Linked DNA regions of Homo sapiens. The protein of the gene in region 1 interacts with the protein of each later gene in a pairwise test. Each region holds a gene or a part of one and is shown in the gene's direction. Other genes may lie near its edges.

What was found. Proteins that work in one complex are often made in the same cells at the same time.
Region 2: the proteins of TMEM14A (region 1) and ERMAP interact in binary tests that used the Homo sapiens proteins (3 or more experiments, as listed by UniProt).

Annotation. Positions count from the first base shown.
Region 1 is NC_000006.12:52,673,952-52,681,182, forward strand, and holds part of TMEM14A (transmembrane protein 14A), read left to right. Parts: intron 1-3,135; 5' UTR 3,136-3,151; coding exon 3,152-3,221; intron 3,222-7,231. UniProt on the Homo sapiens protein: Inhibits apoptosis via negative regulation of the mitochondrial outer membrane permeabilization involved in apoptotic signaling pathway.
Region 2 is NC_000001.11:42,812,280-42,820,350, forward strand, and holds the start of ERMAP (erythroid membrane-associated protein precursor), read left to right. Parts: upstream 1-4,842; 5' UTR 4,843-4,974; exon of another isoform or gene 4,975-5,118; intron 5,119-5,254; exon of another isoform or gene 5,255-5,536; intron 5,537-8,071. Other genes in the region: SVBP (small vasohibin-binding protein), read right to left, coding at 4,152-4,265. UniProt on the Homo sapiens protein: Possible role as a cell-adhesion or receptor molecule of erythroid cells.

The DNA of each region.
Region 1 (7,231 bases):
GTAATCATTGGAGCAGCTAATATTTGTTGAGTGCTCAGTATGTGCAGGCACTGTTCTAAGTGCTTTACAGTATTAAATCATTTAATTCTCAGAACAATCCTATAAGGTAGATATTTTTGTTATCCCTATTTTAAAGATGGAGAAACTGAGTTATTGAGGTTCCACAGCTAGTAAGTGGTGGTATCAGGTTTGAAGATAAGCATACTTTATAGCATATGGTTAGCTCCTTTAGAAAGATAATAAGTAGGATCAAACATGAGAAGTTCATGGGGCTGAACATTGTAAGTTACCAGATGGAACACAGTGCCCTGTGGTCACAACTTTAAGCTATGAAGAGCATGTGATTGATCCAGAATTGAAAACTCTGAAGAACATGTTTGGTTTACATGTTCGCTTTTTTTCAGCAGCTAACTCAGTTATCAGAGGTGATGTTGCATAGAGGTTAGGACTGAGACTTCCCTAAGTCAGAGATCTTTGTTTTGCTGTATAACCTTCAGGCATTGCTTGCATTCTCTGTGTGCCACTTTCCTCATCTGGAAAATGAGGATAATCATGACAGTACATACCATAGGGTGTGGTCATGATTACATGAGTTGATACACATAAGGCACCTAGAATGCCTTAGAATGGCACCTAGCACATAGTAATTGCTCAAAAACATTATAACCTCTTTATTATTATTATTTGTTTAGCCATCATTCAGTCAGCAAATGGTTTTTGGACCCAGGTTCTCCCTACATGCTACATCCTACTGTACCACTTCTCGGCCACAGATGAGCTCTCCTGTTTTAATTCTCCTTCCTGCAGATGATGAGCATTTTTCAGTGTTGCCTCCTTTTTGGTGCTGTCATCTCCTGTGCCTCAGCTTCCCTCCCCCATACCCTTCCTCATAGTAAGTTCTAGTGGATGACTCTGAGATCAGCTCAAAATTCTTCTTCTTTTTTTTTTTTTTTTTTTTTGAGACGCCCAGGCTGGAGTGCAGTGGCACGATCACAGTTGATTGCAACCTCTGCCTCGCAGGTTCAAGGGATTTTCCGGTCTCAGCCTCCTGAGTAGCTGGGATTACAGACATGCACCACCATGCCACGTCCGGGTAATTTGTTGTATATTTAGTAGAGAAGGGGTTTCACCATGTTGACTGGGCTGGTCTCAAACTCCTGACCTGAAGTGATCCACCAGCCTCTGCCTTCCAAAGTGCTGGGATTACAGGCGTGAGCTACCTCGCCTGGCCCCTTTTTATGTTCTACATTAATTTATTACCAATTGATAATGGGAGATAAAAGGCCCATTAACCTAAATGATAAGCAATGAGAAAATTGTAAAAATATGCAAGGAATCTCACTTACCATTCCTCACATTTACAAAGATAATTACCTTCCCTGTGGAAGAAATATAGACGTGAGAAAGCTCAGAAATAAAGGCACCACTAGGGGTCTTAGAACTTAAAAAGCTGTAAAGAACTCCAGAACTCTTTTCATCTATTCTCCTAACTTGCAGGGAGAGTTGAGGGTGAGGGAGGGGCATGGTCTGAGGCCCAGTGGCCACATCTCTAGCCTGTGGCTGGCACGCTATCTACTGCATCTGAGAGAATTGTGGGCAGGGTTTCAGTGGAACTTCTCACCACTGGGTATGTTTCAGCTGCTGCTATGATGCACAGTAGGATGTCATTGTCATCCATTTAACTTCATGCTGGGGCTATATTGTATTCTTTAGTGATTTGCCATTGATTAAGTGTGGATGTCTCTGCTACCACAGAAGAGCTATCTTGCAAGGAAACTAATGACAAAGCCATTGTTTAAACTGAATTAGTCAATCTCCAAGAAGACATCCATCTGTAAAGAATGAGAGGACTAATATCTGTACAGACATGAAAGAATTATAAGATGGAATTGTGGAAGTTAAGGAATTTAGAGGAGGAAGAAGGCATTTGCTCCAGATCACTTTGATAGTACAGACTAGAGTCAAGGAAATTAGGAGGTAATTAATAAGGGTAGAAGTCAGGGGAGAAGGTTTAAAGGGAGGTGGCATACAGGGGATAGTCGGGCTTTTGGAGGTGGACAGGGAGGGAGGACATTTCAGGCATGGAAGTGAAAAGTGAAGATTGTAGTGTCACAGTTCAGTGAAGAGACCTGGCTGACCAGAGCAGAAGTTTTATTTGGGTAAGTGGAAAGAATTGAACAGCTGAGAGTATGGCAGATCTTGAAGACAGGCAGAGGAGAATCAGCTTGAGGTACCCCCCAGAGTGTGCTTAACAGTGATGAGGATGAAGGGGAAAGTAGAGGGTTGGGAGAGGTGAAGTTTGAACCTCTTTTTTCCCTTGAGACAGGGTGTCACTCTGTCATCCAGGCTGGAGTGCAGTGGCACAATCACGGCTCATTGCAACCTCAACCTCCAGGGCTCAAGCAATCCTCCCAACTCAGCATCCTGAGTAGCTGGGATCACACGTGCATGCCATCACACCCAGCTAATTTTTTGTATTTTTACTAGAGATGGGGTTTTGCCATGTTGATCAGGTTGGTCTCAAATTCCTGGGTTTAAGCCATCTACCTGCCTTGGTCTTCCCAAGTACTAGGATTACAGGCGTGAGCACCATGCCTGGCCGAACTTCCCTTTCTTTAGTAGACTAGAGAAATTAATTTCTGTAATTCTGTGGAATGTCTTTGTATTAGTCATTCTCACACTGCTCTAAATAACTACCTGAGACTCGGTAATTTATGAAGAAAAGAGGTTTAATCAACTCAACTTCCGCAGGCTGTACAGGAGGCGTGGCTGGAGAAGCCTCAGGAAACTTATAATCATGGTGGAAGGCAAAGGGGAAGCAAGCATGTCTTCACATGGCGACAGGAGGGGGAGAGCACGTGAAGGGGGAAGTGCTACACGCTTTCAAACATCCAGATCTTGTGAGAACTTTAGATCATGGAACAGCACTAGGGGGATGTTGCTAAACCATTAGCAGCCACCCCCGTGATCCAGTCACCTCCCACCAGGCCCCACCTCCAACACTCAGGATCACAATTCAACATGAAATTTGGGTGGGGACACACAGCCAAACCATATAAGCGTATCATTTTTAGATACATTCCCTCCCCAAAACTTTTTTATTTTGTATAATTTGTCCTTTCCCCCTTGCTTTAGAATTGCAACCTTGCCAATGGACCTGATCGGTTTTGGTTATGCAGCCCTCGTGACATTTGGAAGCATTTTTGGATATAAGCGGAGAGGTAAGCCTAACCCAAATTTTCATGAAAGGGAATTAGTGGGGGTTTGGAGGTTGTGCTAGGTCATGTGAGGCTCTGTAAGTAGGATGAGAAGCTAAAGATGCCTTAGAGGTGGCTGAAGACCAGCGTGTCTTGGAAGGGACTCATGAAAGGAAGAGGCTTCCGTGGGGCTGAGCATGACAGAGTGTTCCAACCTGGGGGTTCTGGGCCTCTCTTCCACCACAAAACTCTCACTTCACTTCATCATCAGTTGCATAGTTAATTGATTTAATCTCCCTCAGGACCACTGCTTATTATTAAATGAGGATTTTTTTTTTTTGCTTTACATAATCGTGGTACCAAAAAACTGAGTTATATTGATCCTGTGTGTTGTAATGAAAACATTGTTAAATATTCAGTTATCATATCCAAAGTTGTCTCTTCACCTTTGTCCAAAAGAGGGGGGAAAAAAACTCAGGTAATCAATTAAAGAGTTTTCATGGAGAAAAAGGAAAGGTCAAATTTTTTTATTTTACTTTTATTTTAGAATCATTTATAGTTATGATGTCTCCTAGTTATGTTTCATATATATACACAACCTTTAGTCATCTTTCTGACAAACTGTCTCTTACGTTTTAATGACATTTTTTAAATGAAGTTTTTTATTTCAAAGGGTATTGTATTTGTGGCAGTGGTTGACTTGAATTTGAGTGAAAAAGCCAGGTCTACATGGTTACCAGTTAGCTTCCTTCCTTAAAGGCTGCTAAGAAGTCAAAGACCAGAAGCACCGTATAGCTCTTGTAGCTGGGGGGCTGGCAGGTAGAATTGACCATCATCTACGATTCCTTAAAGCCTGTAATTCACCTTGGATTTTTGTTCGTTGTTTCTGTCTTAATGTATGTATTAGAGATGTGTATTTGAAGGAAAAAAAAAGATGATGGCACCAAAGTAAGACCTGTAAACCAAGTACTCAGAGGTTGATGTTTCACAATCTACTTTAGAAAGAACTCAGTTTAAAATGCTAAGATTGTTTTTGAAAAAAAATTTTCACTGTCAAAGACAATGTCTAAATAACTTCTATTACAGAACAGAAAAGAACATCTGGGCATTTTTGCCTGCCTTTATGAGAGGTGGAAAGAAAGTGGGGAGAGAGATATAGAGAGTGTGTGTATGTGTGTGTTTGTGTGTGTGTGTGTGTGTGTGTGTGTGTGTGTGTGTGTGTGGAAGGAATCATTTTATTCTAACTCACATCTCTTCATTGTTTACCAGCTGGTGGGAACAAATGAAATTACATTAGCTGTGAGGTCTCTGATTTCAAGGGCTTGTTGTCCACCTGCACAATATGGTTTCTTGGCCTCCTGCAAGAGCCCCCTACTAAGTGATCCTGGAAGCCCCCAAGGGTATTATGGGTTCACAAGGAAGCTCACTTTGTAGTATAATGTGGGTTAAAAGCATGGGCCACAGAATCAAGCATTCCTGCATTCCAGTCTTGACGCTGCCACTTACCAGCACTGATACTCAGGTGAGATGTTTCAACATCTGGGCCTCAGTTCCTCACCTGTAAATTAATCTGTTAGGATTAAATAAGATGATGCATGGTACACATTTCACATGGTGCCTGGCATAGAATAAAGTTTTAATCTTCTTGTTTTTTTCTGCTGCTACTGCCCTGCCAGTGGGAGGTCTGTGAGCCATGAGGCATAATACCTTTTTCTAGTTTTGTACTCTAGTTTTGTATTATGTTCTAAGCTGCCAGTGGCTCGAATGTCTTAGAATGTGTGTGTAAAGTGAGTTAACTCTCCTTTGACTTAGAGCTTCCCTAGGTATGAGTCCTATGTAGCTGGGCCAGGAGACCCTTCTACGGGACAGTTATTGAGAATAATCTTGGGTCGGTGAAAGATGTGATGTCGAAATGGTGTTTAGTGGGAGGACACAGATGTATCCAAATCCTAAACTAGACCAGCTGTGAGACACAAGTTGGGTTAAACGGAGAAGCTGATAGATTTTTATTTTGATGGGGGTACAGTGGGGAGAGAGGGCAGCCAGTGGCGGGACACAGGATGCTGAGCACTGTGCTTGCCTGGGCTCACCCCTCCTCCCAGGTAGGTCTCCAGAGAGGTGGATGACCAAGAAGATGCTATGATATGGAGGCTCTTCCTAGGCCAGGTAACATCGAGTGCCCAGAGTGAAAGAGGGCCAGATGGCATTCCCTGCCTTGTCCCACACTAGGGCTGAACCAGACCTTACACCTTCCTACTCCAGTTGAAGGGAAGGGCACTGACACAGCAATCCCTTCAGAGAGGTGCAGGTGTGCTTGCTGGGCAGGCTGCTATTTGGACGACCATAAGAGCACCTGCAGGGAAGCTCCCAGATGCATCTTTCAACTCTTTTTAAAACTCCTCTTCCAAGACTGCCCCACCCAGATCAGGCATCCCAGGAAGTGGGAAGGAAAAGAGCTTAGAGCTCCTTTTCTTGTAGCCCCCACTATGGGTCACTGAGCTTGTTCTCAGGATCTTTGCTTTCTTCCACCAGCGTGGTTTTCTTGTAAAACAGCCCACAGTCCTGCCACCTTCCTCAGGCAAGATGAAATGTCTCAAGAACCTTCCTGGTTCTTGCTGCTGGTGAGCCTGCCCCTGCTGTTTGCTGTCTGATCTCATCAAGACTGAAGTGTAGACACTGCCACTTTCTCCACATACTTAAGTGTGCGTGTTTGGTGGTGGTGGGGAGGGTGGGGTGGGGTGATCCTAACAGTAAATAAACCTTCAGGGTATACAGAAAGGAGCATCATAGAATCTCTAGGTGAGAAGACACCTTAATGGTCACCTAGTTGTGCATTTCAGAAAGTGTTTTAATCTCCTTAATATCCTTATCTGGTATCTTCTGCTTGAACATGACCCATAATAGGGGTGCATTAAATCAGTATTTATCAAGTGCTCCTATGTACCTGGCCCTGTGTCTCGCCCTGGGGAAACAGCAATCGCTCACAAGTGAGTAAGGGCAGACTGACATTCAATCCATGAACAGCATATAAACATATGATCAGGAATAGCGGAAGACTATGATGGGGGCCCTTGTTCAGAATGGTGGGTTGGAGAAGACAACACTTAAGCAGACATCCGAAGGTGAGCTACACTTGGCCAAGTGAACAGTGCAGAGACAAGCAGTCTGCACAAGGAACAGTATGTCTGAAAGCCATGACGAATAGAGTTTGGTATATTCAGAGAACTGAAAGAAGGCCAGGGTTCCCACAATATAGCAAACTGGATTATTTTTCCTAAGAGCTTTGGGAAGCACTAAGGTTTTTAATTAGGAGAGTGACCTGTCCAGATGTATGTTTTTAAAAGATCATCTTACTGTGTTTGAAGAATAGCTTTTGGGGGAAACAATGTGTAATTTAACATTATCTCCAACTGTAACATTCTAAGCCACTATATATTTATATATTTATATATATATATATATATGTATATATATGTGTATATATATATGTGTGTATATATATGTGTGTGTATATATATGTGTATATATATATATACATATATGTATATATATATATACACATATATATATGGCATGGATGATTAACCCCGTTTTACAACTGCTAAAACTTAGAGAGGCTAAGTGACTTAGCCAGAGTCCTTTAGCCAGCAAGTGAAAGAATTAGGAGTAGAACCTAGCGTGTTTGTCTTCTCATTCAGAATGCTGCTCTGGTGTGTGTGTGTGTGTTGTGTGTGTGTGTTTGTGTGTTGTATGTGTTGTGTTTGTGTGTTTGTGTGTGTGTGTGTATTGTGTGTGTATGCATGCATGTGCTGCAGTGGTTCTTAACCCTGGCTGCACATTTGAATTTCCAATGGATATTTTAAAAATGAGATGCTTTGACCCTACCCCCCAGGGATTTTAACCTAACAGATTCTAAATAGGGTGAGTTCCATGAAGCAAGGATTGTGTGTGTCTTATTCATAGTGTCACTGCCATGTAACCCACTGTCCAGTGCACAGAAAGTGCTTGGTGTTTGCCACAGTGCTCTGGGGTGG
Region 2 (8,071 bases), on another chromosome or scaffold:
CAAAAGTGAAGAATAAGAATGAAAGGTGAAAAGCTGGTGGATGCCATGCAGAGCGAGGACTTCCATAAAGGTCTGTGCCCTGCGGCCAAACACAGTCAACACACCACCATTTTCTTGTTGCTCTTAAATGAGCAAAACCAAATTTCTTTTTTATTTAATGAAATATTAAATCTTTATTTCCCCCTAACATAATTTGTGATCAAGTAGGACAGAGGTAAGTCCCACCATCACTGGGGACAGTAGCAACACACAGACTTCAGAAACAGCCTTGAATCATCAGTAACATCCTCCCCTGGTAACGTTAGAAGGAATGCATCTAATGACAAATTTGCAATGTTGTCACATTGTTCTAATTTATTTGATTAGTTTATCTGGAAAAACTTTACACATTATTGAAGACAACAGTAAATTATTTTCTTGCTCTGAAAAAATAATGTTTTTTCACATTTTAAAACCTTTTAGTATGCTTTTGCAAAAGTAGTTGCAAGAATATGACAGCTGGGTTTGCAGAATGTCCATGTACAAGTTTGTATTTATAAGAAACTGGTAATCTGCCTATAATTTGCCTCTACAAATAGAGCTCTTTAAAATAATATTTTTAAAAAAACAGGCTTAAACTTTTCCCTATTCATTCTACTTGTAGCAAAGAGGTACTTACTTTTCAAGTATTACATGGTAAAAGGCACAAGTTTTTTTTGCCAATTTTAAGCTGTTAAGCTTTAAGACCAAACTATGTGAAAAAAAATCATGCCTAGTCAATCCTAGTCAATCATTTTATAGCCAAATCCTCTTGTCTTTTAAATAACGCAGAAAAATACTAATTTGCTAAGAAGGAGCACACTGGAAAAAGCCATTTGAAAGTACTGAAGAATGAGGAGTATTTTTTTTCTACTGATGAAAATTATTAGGAAAGCTATCCTGTCTGTTGTCTTTAGCTAGTTTAAATAAATCTTTTCAAAATGATGGTCAAGAAATCTTTAGAAAACTGGAAGAGGGGATGCTCTTTTATAGCATGAAAGGAATTCCATTAATTATAGAAATTCTCGTTAAATTTTGACGTTGGTTCTTCAGAAAAAATACGCATTTAACTTCTGCAGTCTGTTGTGTTTGAACACCATCTACCTGAGCCAGGGGCCCAAGCGTTCCTTCATCATCAAAGGCCAAAACTGGATTCAAAGGAACTTCTGGGCTCTTACTGTTAGTGACATCTAATCTGGATGGTTTCGATCCAATGGGTAAATTTATAATTTCTTCAAAATTTTCATTCTGAACAGAGATACTCCATTTTCATTTGGTTTTCCAAATTGGGGGTGCTCTCCACAGTCACTTTTGATTGGTGTGAGGTAACCACATATGGGCTGGCAACTGGTTCTCCATTTCCCAGAGCATTTGTTGTACACGGAAGTATAGATAGCTCTGTTCCTCCAGTGAGAGCTCCCTTGGCTATATCACCATTTCTCTGATCAATGGTTTTCTTATCTGTAGCTTCTGTTCTCCTGCTTCAGGGCTGTTTCTTATAGCAACCCTCATATTGTTCACCAAAGCACAATGCAGTCATATCATCTGAGGACCCGGATCCAGGTGGGAATGGGAAGGTAAAGGACCACAGCTCTCAGGGGGTCTGCCTTAACCCAAAGGTAGATTTCAGTTTACAGATTAACTTCAAATGCACTAGTAAGTTTACTTATTATGTTTACTGCCTCCCCTTGCTGGAATGCAAGATCCATGAAGGCAGGGATTCTTTTCTGCTTTGTCATCATGTGACTCAAATTCCTCGAACAGTGCCTGGCACATACTAGCAGTTCTTTTTCTTTTTTTTTTGTTTTTGAGACAGAGTCTAGCTCTGTCGCCCAGGCTAGAGTGCAGTGGCACAATCTCGGCAACCTCCGTCTCCTGGGTTCAAGCAATTCTCCTGCCTCAGCCTCCCGAGTAGCTGGGACTACAGGGAGCACCACCACGCCCAGCTAATTTTTTTTTTAGTAGAGACAGGGTTTCACCATGTTGGCCAGGATGGTCTCAATCTCTTGATCTCATGATCCGCCTGCCTCGGACTCCCAAAGTGCTGGGATTACAGGTGTGAGCCACTGTGCCTGGCCAATATTTAATGAATGAATCAGGTTAACAAAAATTAAAAGTTGACAATATCGGCCGGGTGCAGTGGCTCACACCTATAATCCCAGCACTTTGGGAGGCCAAGGCAGTGGTGCACGCCTGTAATCCCAGCTACTCTGGAGGCCGAGGCAGGAGAATTGCTTGCACCCGGGAGGCAGAGGTTGCAGTGAGCAGAGATCACGCCACTGCACTCCAGCCTGGGTGACAGAGCAAGACTCCGTCTCAAAAAAAAAAGAGACTCACCATCAGAGAAATGCAAATCAAAACCACAATGAGATACCATCTCACACCAGTTAGAATGGCGATCATTAAAAAGTCAGGAAACAACAGGTGCTGGAGAGGATGTGGAGAAATAGGAACACTTTTACACTGTTGGTGGGACTGTAAACTAGTTCAACCATTATGGAAGACAATGTGGTGATTCCTCAAGGATCTAGAACTAGAAATACCATTTGACCCAGCCATCCCATTACTGGGTATATACCCAAAGGATTATAAACCATGCTGCTATAAAGACACATGCACACGTATGTTTATTATGGCACTATTCACAATAGCAAAGACTTGGAACCAACCCAAGTGTCCATCAATGATAGACTGGATTAAGAAAATGTGGCACATATACACCATGGAATACTATGCAGCCATAAAAAGGGATGAGTTCATGTCCTTTGTAGGGACATGGATGAAGCTGGAAACCATCATTCTCAGCAAACTATCGTAAGAACAAAAAACCAAACACCGCATGTTCTCACTCATAGGTGGGAACTGAACAATGAGAACACTTGGACACAGGAAGGGGAACATCACACACCAGGGCCTGTTGTGGGGTGGGGGGAGGGGGGAGGGAAAGCATTAGGAGATATACCTAATGTAAATGACGAGTTAATGGGTGCAGCACACCAACATGGCACATGTATACATATGTAACAAACCTGCATGTTGTGCACAGGTACCCTAGAACTTAAAGTATAATAATAAAAAATAAAAAATAAAAAGAGACTCCATCTCAAAAAAAAAAAGCAATGTGGCAATGTCTAGTAAAATTGAGAATGTACCCAGTAATTTTTCTAGTTAAATAACCTACAGAAATTCTAAGGCAGGTGCCAAAGGAGACACCTAAAAGCTTTTCACTACAGCAATGTTTGTAATAGCAAAAAATACTATAAATAATTTAAATGTGCATCTCTGTAAGAATGAATAAATATACTAAGTAAAATGGATGCATAAAATAGACTATTATAAAAATTAATGAGAATAAACTAAATTCTTATATTGGCATGAATAGTTCTAAAAAACAATGTAAGCAAAATGCAAAATAAAATGCAGGAATTTTATTAATGTAAAAATTTAAAATACTACTGTATATTGTTCAAGGATATCTATTAATATATTTGAATGTAAAAGTATAAAAAAAAGTAGTTGTCCATGGAGAAGTAAAAGGATGTAAGACAGGAAATGAACAAAGCAGACAGATAAACAAAACAAAGAGGGAAAAAGAGACCAGCAAGATTTTCCCTGACATTAAATACTAAAATAAAATACTTATGTCTGTATGTGGCTCAATATTGGCAGGGTAAAGTTTAAAGCTTTTTATTCTCAAGTTGATTGTAATCGTTGAGAGAACAAAGGAACACACTGGTGAGTTTAAAGCTTGGGCCTCTACCTGGCATGAGTAGCTGCTTTCCGCACCAAATCCAGAACATCTGTACTGGGGGTGTCTGACACTTGCGTGCTCTCTCTCATTCTGACCCCTTCTTTCCCCTTACATATCATTTTTTTTCCTTTCTTCCTTCCCTTGGGTCTCTTACCACAAAAGCTCCGCACCAGACTGGGGTTCTGACACTAACTTGGCATGTGATTCTGGGCTGCCACCTCACCATTCTGAACCTCAGTGTTGTCCCCTCTAAACCTGGGAGAACACCCATCCTGCCTGGAGGCAAGTATGGCTCGCTGTCAGTTCTCCTTTCTGCTGTTTCTCTATTCCAGCATCATCTCCAGCAGACTACAGGCATACAGAGCCTCCGCCTTAATCTCACCTCTGCTCTTTGTCTCTGCTTCAGCTCCTGCTGGGCTGATTTCTGTTTGGCCTTCTCAACTCTGCTGACAGATTCTTTAACTTTGGTTTTTTCTTTACGTGCAGGTGGATCCATGGCTTGACTTCTGGATATTTCTTAGGAGGCTCTGATCTGGGTGGTACAGAAAGAGGCAGATCTTCAAAACAAAACAAAACAAAAAATACCCTGCCAGTTACTCCTCTAATCCTTTAGCTCCGCCCCATCCTTTGCCAGGTGAGGCAGAGTGGTCTGGTGGCAAGGGCGCTGGATGTGGGGGAGTAGGAACCGAGTCCCAAGGCCACAACCTCGCTGGGTGTCCCTGGGCAAGTCTCCTCCCCACTTTGAGCCTTAGTTTTCTGTCTGCAAAATGGGTTAAGTGTTTTCCTGGCCTCCCTCCAGGAGCTGCTGTGTGCGGGTGAAATGCAAAGACCCCTGTGAAAGCGTTGCCCACTGTGCGGCGTGCGGCACCCAGCGCGGAACCGTCCTAATGGGACGCTGAGACCCAGAGGGCGCCCAGGGTTTTCCCACTGCGGCCGGCCTAACTCCGCCGCAGCAGCCGCTCCTGGGGCCAGGGGGCCGGGCCCCATAGCCAGCCGGGCCCGCCCCCCACCGCCCGGCCCCCCGACCCCGCCCCGGCCCGCCCGGCCCCAGGGGACGGCCCCCGCCTCCTGCCCTCTTCCCTCTCCTGGAGGAAAATGGCGGTCGCTGGAGCCGCCGACCAAGAGGCTTGGGAGTCTGTACCTTTCCCGACCGGGCCACTGGAAGTTGGAGCCTCCGCCGAGTCGCAGACAACGCCTCCGGGAGGGTAATCCTCGCCTTCCCCCGACCACTGGACCCAGCGCTGCCTGCCCACCGCCCCTCGTCCTGGGCGGGGCCGCGCGCCGGGGGGAGGGGCGCAGGGCCGAGCGCCAGGAGGCTTCCGCCCGCAGGAGCGGCCGCGCGTGCGCAGAGAGGATGGCTGGAAACCCGCGTAGAGGGCGGGGCGGGGCAAGCCGGTGCCGGGGCGGGGCAGGGGCGGAGCCACACCGGGGTGGGTGGTGGTTACGGCTAACCAAAGCTTTTTCCCGTTATATTTTCTGCAACAGCTACTAGGTTTTAGAGGGTGAGATCCGAATCCTGGAATTGGAATTGCTCAGAATTCGAATTCCGAGGCTCAATTTCTTAATTCGAAAAGTGGGGATTGATGATTGCCACCTTCTTCATTCATGAGTTTATTGGGAGGATCAAGTGAGATCCCGTTTGCCACAGTGCTTTGAAAAAGGAAATCTTGACAGAAGTACCAATAGCCAGTATAAATACAGAGAACATTCACGTTCAACTGATTACCGAGGAGATGTAAATTAAAATAGCTGGCTGTAATTTTCCAGGTATTACATTAGCAAGGATTGACAAAAATGATAATAGCTACCTTACATTTGGGCTTACTATATTCCAGGCACTGTTCTTACAGCTTCACATTTATTAACTAATTCCTCATAATAAGTGTGTATAATGTATACGTGTATATTATTATCCCCATTTACACATAAGGGAACAGAAGCATTGAAAAGTTAAGTGAGTTGTCCCGGGTCACACAGCTTCTAAGTGCTGGAGCAAATATTTCAGCCAGGATTCATAGGACAATGGCCTTATCCAAAGTAAAACCCTGTTTGGGTCCACTATTTGTTCCTCTATCAAACTGGCAAGAATTGAAACAACTGATAGATGCTAAGCAAGCAATGAACTCAGCCCAGATGGACACACGCTTCCAGTCAAACTGTAAATCGTTAACAGCCTTTCTGGAGGTCAGTTTAGTACTAGGTATCAAAAGCCTTAAAAGTGAGCACAATGCCCCAAAAAGACAAATACTGCATGTTTCCATTCATATGAAGTATCTAAAGCAATCAAAGTCTAAGAAACAGAAAGTAGAATGGTGACTGCCAGTGGCTAGGAGAGAGGGAAAAGAGGAATTGTTTAAAGGGTATAGAATTTTAGGTTTGTAAGGTGAAAAAGTTCTAGAGATCTACTGCACAATGTTTATTTTTTATTTATTTAATTTTTAAAAAATAGATGGGGTCTTGCTCTGTCACCCAGGCTGGAGTGCAGTGGTGTGATCATAACTCACTGTAACCTGGGCTCAAGCAATCCTCCCACCTCAGCCTCCAAAGTATCTGGGACTACAGGCACACACCATCATGCCTGGCTAATTTTTTAAAATTTTTTTGTAGAGATGGAGTCTCACTGTGTTTCCCAGGGTGATCTGGAAATCCTGGGCTCAAGTGATCCTCCTGCCTCAGTCTCCCAGAGTGCTGGGATTACAGATGTGAGCAATTGCGCCCAGCTTTTCCAAAATTTCTACAGTAAACGTTTATACTTTAGCAATCAGAGGAAAGTACATTAAATGTCTTTTTAAAAACCCTATACAAATGCTGATTCGATTATTATTAATAAAAGTAACCAAGTCAGAGTCTATTTCAGAAATCTTGATGTAGTACTGGTATTTTACATTTGTGTCACATGGTATGGTTTATAACGTTCATATAAGCTATGAACTAGATTACAGCTGAAGACACGGCAGGACCTTTAGAAGCCAGCTAAAAACAAACCAGCTATAGGGAATGGAGGAGTGGAAAAGCCACATGGAAGACTGGAAAAGTAGTGGTGCCACTGAGCCACTGTTGAAAGTGGAGAAGGTGTGATGAGTTGGTTTGGGAAACGGTGAGGAAGAGGATAAGTTAGGAGCGTGTGTGTGTGTGTGTGTGTGTGTGTGTGTGTGTGTGCGCGCGCGCAAGAGAGGGACCGAGAGAGAGAAAGAGCTAGATTACGCTTCAAGTGGCAATAGGCAAGAAGAATTGTCCAGTGAGCAATTAGAAGATTTCAGAAAAGAACGGAACTGGAGATACCAGTTTGGGATTCTACATTCTTTATTGGGAAGGTGAAGGTTGGAGCCAGGAGGGAGTGAATGTTGAGGCTGAACACTGTCAAAGTCCCCTCTCTATTCTTTCCATGAGTTTATGCTTTGTCTGTCTCTTTTGTGTCTACCAGTGGACTCTTGGCCAGGCTGCAGAATTTCCTGGTTTGTTGAATGACTAGCAAGAGTTTATAGTAATATAACTAGAATATTTTTACAGTTGAGGTATATACTACACTAAGATTATATTCACTTTATTGAATAATATTTTTTCTAGAGTCAAAAAATTATCTATTTTTATTTGCTTAATGATCTATGCATCCCTTGTTTATTTTTTATTTTCAGAGGTGGGCTCAAGTGATCCTCCCGCTTCAGCCCCTCAGTGGCTGGTACTACAGATGTGAACCAGGTCATTTACCAGTGTCTTTTTTTTTTTTCTTGGCAGCATCCCTCCTTAGACTCATCCTCTCTTTGCTCCAAACTCCTCTGCTTAGCCTTGCTTCACAGCTCTTGTCCTAGGATTAGGGACCTAACCACATTCTGGGGATTCTCTTCTTGTTTCTCCTGTGCCAAATCCCCTGCTCTCTGGATCTTATGTTTTTCCATTCTTGGTTTATTCTCTCATTTTGGAGGAGTATGTTCTCCACTAACTCCCCAGAAGGGGTTCATGGAAGCTAAATTTTTGAGTCCTTGCTTGTCTAAAAATGGCTTTATTTTCTTTCATCCTTGAGTGACAGATTTCCACATTGGAAATTATTTTCCCTCAGAAGTTTAACGGCATTGATTCATTGTCATCTAGCTTCTCATGTGGCTACTCTTGAGGAGACTGATTTATTCTGACTTGTGTTACTTCCCATATATTTTGTTTGTTAATTTGTTAATTTGTTTAGGATATTTTTCTCCTTTATCCTTGATGTTCTGAACGTTCATAACAAACTGTCCTTTAAGTATTTTTCATTCATTATGCTAAGCACTCGGTGGCCCCTTTCAATTGGGAAACAAAGTCTTCAAT